Homo sapiens: one gene and its partner. The protein of the gene in region 2 purifies or fractionates together with the protein of the main gene of each other region. This does not show direct contact. Each region holds a gene or a part of one and is shown on either strand. Other genes may lie near its edges.

The links. Proteins that work in one complex are often made in the same cells at the same time.
Region 1: the proteins of RBM47 (region 2) and YTHDC1 purify together in Homo sapiens (affinity purification with mass spectrometry; one large-scale study listed by BioGRID and IntAct). This does not show direct contact.

Annotation. Positions count from the first base shown.
Region 1 is NC_000004.12:68,340,035-68,343,687, forward strand, and holds part of YTHDC1 (YTH domain-containing protein 1), read right to left. Parts: intron 1-3,653. UniProt on the Homo sapiens protein: Regulator of alternative splicing that specifically recognizes and binds N6-methyladenosine (m6A)-containing RNAs.
Region 2 is NC_000004.12:40,441,300-40,444,952, forward strand, and holds part of RBM47 (RNA-binding protein 47), read right to left. Parts: intron 1-3,653. UniProt on the Homo sapiens protein: Single-stranded RNA-binding protein that functions in a variety of RNA processes, including alternative splicing, RNA stabilization, and RNA editing. Functions as an enzyme-substrate adapter for the cytidine deaminase APOBEC1.

The DNA of each region.
Region 1 (3,653 bases), about 28 Mb from region 2:
AGAGGAAGTATAAAGCCATGAAAACTGATGAGACAGAACAATTACATTTGTGGCTTCAGGAAAAAAACAAAGCCCACATGAATTACAGAAAGGTCTATTAATTAACCTGGGGGCTATAAACAGGTTAAATGGGATTCAAATTTTCCCCAAAGTGGGAAAGAAATCTGTGACTGAAGAGAATAGTTAATACAAACGATAAGGTTACATAGGAAATGGAAAAGATATCATTTTCCTTTACATTTGGAAACAGACACAATCTAAAGATATCTGAAAATTACTATGTCTGGAATAGCAAAATTGATCATTTTGGGTGGTACCAATGCTGATATGTACTTTCTATCATTTTTCTAAAATGAAAACAGGCTATATGGGTTTTTATTTTTGTTTACTTTTAAAAAATCTTATTTAAAATCAAGATATGTCAAACAAAAAAGCTTCTCTCATCATCTAGATTCATGTTTTTGCTAAGAAAAATTTCTTCAAGATCTGAATGGTGGCAAACACCATTTTCGGACTCTAAATTATAAAAAAAATAGTCTGATAGAAGTAAATCAATGTTTTACAGATGTTTAATAAGTACTGGGTCAAAGCTCACTAATCAGTAAAAAAGTAGATCCAACAGGTCTTCACAGAATCAAATACATTTGTAGAAGACAAAAAGAAAAAATTTCAAGACTATCACAATGAAACAGGCAAATAATGCTATACAAATCTTTTCATAAAATCACTAGATCTTATTCAGAAATATCATCCCCGAACCCTGAACATTTATATTATATACTTTAGACATGCTAAATTTAATACAGAATGAAATAATTTTGCAGAATGTTAATTTAAATAAATTTAAGTTTCAAACACACTTAAAGCCTGGTTTTCCTATAAAAAGGGGTATTACTGTTTTAAAGTTTTAACGAATTCAAATTCAGATACTGGTTGTAGTTTTAGAAAGCACCTACAACCTTTTTCAAGACAACAAATATTAACCAATGCTTACTACTTTTTAAAAATACTTTGTCACTTTTAAAATTTTATCACTTTTAAAATATATCATATATACAAATCATATAAAATAGAGCATGTTTAATCATTCATTACTTTGCAGATAAAGAAAGAGAAGCTCAAATGTTCCAGTTGACCAAATACACTTGTCTAGTAACAAATGGATATTAGTATGAAGTTCCGGCTTTAGAAATTGACAGTTAAATCAGATGGGGAACAATAAAAGCAACTTTAACCAAAGTATAAAGAACACAAATGCAAAATATTAAAAGGGCATATATACTAGAACATAAATTTCAAATTAGTGCACCAGAAAGCTCTATATCTTTAACATTACAACATTTAAAATCTACTGAAATATTCAAAATCAACTATAACACCCTCACTTAAATGATGTACACACTTTTATCCGTATTATAGTCCATAACATCAATAAACTGTGTGGTTTTACCACAAACTGGCAAACTAAAACCTACAGGATAAACATGGCCCATTGCCTATTTAGAATGGCCTGCAAGAATGGTTTTTACGTTTTTAAGGCGCTTATTAACAAGAAAAAAAAAAAAGCAAAGAATATGTCAGAGAACACTTACAGCCCACAAAGTCTATTTGGCCCTTTACAAAGAGTTTTGCCAACCCCTGATATAATACAAATGACCAAATTTTAAGTACTTTTCTCCATCACTGAAACTCCTTATATATACACTGGAATATAATATACAAGGGGAAAAGTCTTGGAGGTTAAGGAAATGCAGGTTATAGCTTGCATTTAGGTATCAGGAAATTCCCAGTCTTTCTGAGTTCAAGATTCTTCACCTCTGATAAGAGGCACTTAAAAAAGGTCAGTTTTGGGGAAAGGAAAAGCAGGACATTTGAATCTTCTATGAGTTTTTCAACCTGTAAGAAGACTCTCCTTCCTTATAACTATTGGACTTTAATAAAACCTGCCTGCCCCAACCCTCTTGCTAATGACTGGGCTATGTGATATATATAAAATCTGGTCCAGAACACAAAACAAAATTCCTTCTTCAACAAAACAGGTATGGTATATGCATACATGTTCTGATTATCTACTGCTGTATAAGATGATCACCCTAAAACTTGACTTAAAATGGTAACACCTTTCATTATGGCTCATGGTTCCAGGGCTCAACCGGGGTCTCCCATGTGGCTGCAGTCAAATGGGGCTGGGGCTGGGGCTGAAATCATCTGAAGGCTTGTTCATTGACAAGTCTCGTTGATGTCTAGGCTGGGAAGATTCAAAGCTGGAGCTTCTCCAACATTTCTGTGTGTGTGATTACTCATTACTATGGCAACCACCGAGTAGGCAGATCTTTTACATGGTAGTTTAGGACTCTCGTGTCCCAACAGAGACGGGAACAGGTAGAAATCCAGCAACACCATCACAGTATTTATTCATCACAAAAGCTTACCTAGCTTCAAACAGAGGGGACACATATTCCAATCACTGTTGACAGAAGTGTCATACATAATACATGACAGATGTTTCCAAAATTACTATAGTTTTATTTAAGGGTAAATATTTTAATTATATACTTGAGGTGCATTTTTAATAACAAAAATTCATTTAAATAGGTCAATGTTAAAGCTTATAGTATTAAGTTATAAAGCTAATGTAAACTGCTGCTTCTGGCCATATTCTTCACTGACTTGAAAAAGTACACTTTGCATACATTTTAATTCATTTTTTTAACGTAGAATGAATTATAAAAGAAGAAACATTTTAATACTCTCACAAGCTACTGCTGTTAAAGACTATAATCATCACTGGCATATCCTTTTTGAAAAGAAATAATTATCTCTTTTAGATATAAAGTAATATCCACTAGTTCTAGGTTGACTTTCTTTTAACCTACCTGAACAAACGTTTTTAACCATTTCCTTTGTCCTGAAATTTAACATTATTGATATTCTATATAGAGATATGTATACTTTCAATTACTTCATAATAGTTTGACAGTAGTATCCCAACCCAAGAATAACAACAGTAAACAAAGATTAGAAATGCCAGGTTAAGAAAAGGCCTATAAGCATACAATTCATGCACTACAAAAATCCTAATTTCTATGACATAAAGCACTTCACATTGAAAGCCTTTTTTAGATGTCTATATAGAGAACTATAGACATTAAAAATCACTTTTTTTTTAATTTGTTTTTTTGGAGACAGAGTCTCTCTCTGTCACCCAGGCTGGAGTGCAGTGGCGCAATCTGGGATCACTGCAACCTCCACTTCCCAGGTTCAAGTGATTCTCCTGCCTCAGCCTCCCGAGTAGCTAGGATTACAGAGGCCCGCCACACCATGCCCAGCTAATTTTTGTTATTTTTAGTAGAGACAGGGTTTCACCATGTTGTCCAGGCTGTTCTCGAACTCCTGACCTCAGGTGATCCACCTGCCTTGGCCTCCCAAAGTCTTGGGATTATAGGCATGAGCCACCGTGCCCGGCCTTAAAAAATCACTTAAAATCTTTAAAAAAAAAAAAAAAAAAATTTTTTTTTTTTTTGAGACAGTCTCACTGTTGCCGAGGCTGGAGTGCAGTGACATGATCTCAACTCACTGCAACCTCCGCCTCTGAGGTTCAAGCAATTCTCCCTGCCTCAGCCTCCCAAGTAGCTGGGATTACAGGCACCTGC
Region 2 (3,653 bases):
TAGAGATAGAGTCTCACTATGTTACCCCAGCTAGTCTCAAACTCCTGGGCTCAAGTAATCCTCCTGCCTCAGCCTCCCAAAGTGCTAGGATTACAGGCATGAGCCACCACACCCAACCAAGAAATTTCAACATTAAATCTGAACATGAAGACCTTTCCCTTCTTCCAAATGGAAGATAAGGATATATTTTTAAGAGGACTATTTGCATAAACACCCATGTAGTTACAATCTGTGACCTAGGCAGGAAATGCCAGGTACATATATAAATACATAGGAGACAATTCAAGATCTTACCTGTTGTACTGTATACAACATTAACTGACTAAAGTCCAAGGGAATAGAACTTATCTCTCTGCTGAGATAGGTGGAGTTGCCTTCCTGTCACCCTAACTGTGCTTTGAAACTACTATTCTACCTACAAAAACAGTCTTACAGTAGTCAGGCTACGGAGTCATTGCCAATTCCAACCCCAATAATATAAGAAAAAATCCTGTTTGCTTTCAGTCTGAAATCTGCTGGTGTCAGTAACACAATTATCTCTACATATTTTAAAATAGCGATAGCTTATTTCTTACATCAATGAGCCAAGAAAAGCCTTTCTTCACCTATGCTATCATCTTCTGTAATAAACAAACCATGTTAGCGACCCTGTTTTTATTTTTACTTTGGCCTCTAGGAAGTTCACGATTGATTTTTTTCACTCCAATTTTAGTAACTGTAGGGGACATTACAACACACTTTCATGTTCATCTAATTTGGGTTATAGTTTCATTTTTTAGTTTTCTTCTATTTTTTCAGTTTTCCCAGTGACATGAATTGAGCTGTTTGTATTATTTATCTTATTGTTCACATGTTCTTATAAACCATGTTGTAATTTTGGAGGAGACGAATCAATGCATACATACATGCATATATATCTAATTACAGCCAGACATTGATTAATGCAATATCCAAATTTGCTGTGTCTCTTACACCAACTACAAGTATTGCATACCAACAAGTGAGAACCACAATGAGATACTACTTCACACTCATTAGGATAGTTATTATAAAAACAACAAAAAACAGGAAATAAGCATTGGCAAGGACGTGGAGAAATTGAAACCCTCATGCAGTGCTGGTAGGAATATAAAATGGTACAGCCGCTGTAAAAAACAGTATGGTGGTTCCTCAAAAAATTAAACATAGAATTACCATTTGATCCAGCAATTCCACTTCTAGGTATATACCCAAAAGACTCAAATAGATACTTGTATAATGATGTTCACAGCAACAGTATTTACAGTTGCCAAAAGATGGAAGCAACCCAAATGTTGATCAATGGATTATGATAAACAGAACGTGGTATACATATACAATGCAGTATTATTCAGCCTTTTTTCTTTTGCTTTTTTTTTAGACAGAGTCTCACTCTGTCACCCAGGCTGGCGTGCAGTGGTGCAGTCTCTGCTCACTGCAACCTCCACCTCTCAGGTTCAAACAATTCACCTCAGCCTCCCAAGTAACTGGGACTACAGGCGCACACCACCACGCCCAGCTAATTTTTGTATTTTTAGTACAGGTGGGGTTTCACCATGTTGGCCAGGCTGGTCTTGAACTCCTGACCTCAGGTGCTCTGCCCGCCTCGGTCTCCCAAAATACTGGGATTACACGTGTGAGCCACCGTGCCCGGCTTATTCAGCCTTGAATAAAATTCTGATACGTGCTACAATATGGAAGAACCTTGAAGACATTATGCTAATAGTGAAATAAGCCAGACACAAAGGGATAAATATTATATGATTCCACTTATATAAGGTACCTAGAGTAGTCAAATTCATAGACAGAAAGTAGACTAGTGGTTACCATGGGCTGGAGAAAGGGAGGAGTGGGGAATTAGTGCTTCATGGGTGTGGGTGTCTTAATTAGGGATAATAAAGGTCTGGAGATGGATGGTGGTGATGGCAGCACAACAGTGTGAATATACTTCCTGCCAATGAACCATACACTTAAAAATGGTAAAATGTTATGTATAATATACCACAGTAAAAACAAAATCCTTTAAAAAAAAGAAAAGGTTCAGAGATGCAAAAAAGACAAAAATTAGAGTTGATAAAACTAGGATTTCATTAGAGGCCATTAAAAAATGATACACTGGGCTGGGCACAGTGGCTTACACCTGTAATCCCAGCACTTTGGGAGGCTAAGGTGGGCGGATCACCTGAGGTTGGGAGTTCGAGACCAGCCTGACCAACATGGAGAAACCCCATCTCTAATAAAAATACAAAATTAGCTGGGCGTGGTGGCACATGCCTGTAATCTCAGCTACTCAGGATGCTAAGGCAGGAGAATCCCTTGAACCTGGGAGGCGGAAGTTGTGGTGTGCTGAGATGGCGCCATTGCACTCTAGCCTGGGCAACAAGAGTGAAACTCCTTCTCAAAAAAAAAAAAAAAAAAAAAAAAAAAAAAAAAAAGGTACACTGACTCAGGTTAACACATTCAAGAAAATCTTATGGCCTACAAGTTTTATTCTCCTTATCATCATGTTTAATATACCATATTAAATAAATTATATGGTGTGCTACTCTACTCAATGAATTCAGATGCCAAACACTTAGATATATTAAAAGATAAATGAGGCTGGGCTCAGTGGCTCACGCCTGTAATTCTGGCACTTTGGGCGGCTGAGGCAGGTAGATTGCTTAAGCTCAGGAGCACGAGACCAGCCTGGGCAACATGGCAAAACCCCATCTCTACAAAAAGTACAAAAATTAGCCGGGCATGGTGGTGTGTGCCTGTAGTCCCAGCTATTTGGGAGGCTGAGGTGGAAGGATCACCTGAGCTCAGGAAGTTGAGGCTGCAGTGAGCTGTGACTGCGCCACTGCACTCCAGCCTAGGCAACAGAGTGAGAACCTGTCTCAAAAACAACAACAACAATAACGAAAAGGAAAAGATTTTCAAGTTACTTTGAAAAAGACAACTGTACAGCTAACATGACCCTTCTCTCAAAGATGTAATGAAATGCTTAACTTATTGTAATTATATGTGCTTTAGATTAGCATTGGCAAGCTATGGCTGTGGGCCAAATATGGCCTGCTGTTTGTTTCTATAAATAAAATTGTATTGGAACACAACCCTATCCTTAAAAAAAAAAAAAAGAAAAGATAATGTGTGGCTGCTTTTATACTACAATGGCAAAGCGAAATAGTTGAGACCCAGACAGTGTGGCTCATAAAGCCTAAGGTATTTACTCTCCGGCTCTGTTGACCCCTGGTCTAGGAGATGTGGAAGAGCGCATCCTTGAAGCTCTTAGATTCTGCTTGCTACGTATAATAGTTTTCCTATGCTGAATGATAACTTAATTTCAGGACTAATTTTTAAATTCTAACTGTTTTTTTTTTTTTTAGATGGAGTCTCACTCTGTCATCCAGGCTGGAGTGCAGTGGTATGATCTTGGCTCACTGCAATCTCCACCTCCAGGATTCAAGCGATTTATCTGCCTCAGCCTCCTGAGTAGCTGGTATTACAGGTGCGTACCATCATGTCCGGTTAATTTTTGTATTTTTAGTAGAGATGGGGTTTCACCATGTTTGCCAGGCTGGTCTCGAACTCCTGACCTCAAGTGATCTGTCTGCCTCCTAAAGTGCTGGGATTACAGGTGTGAGCCACTGTGC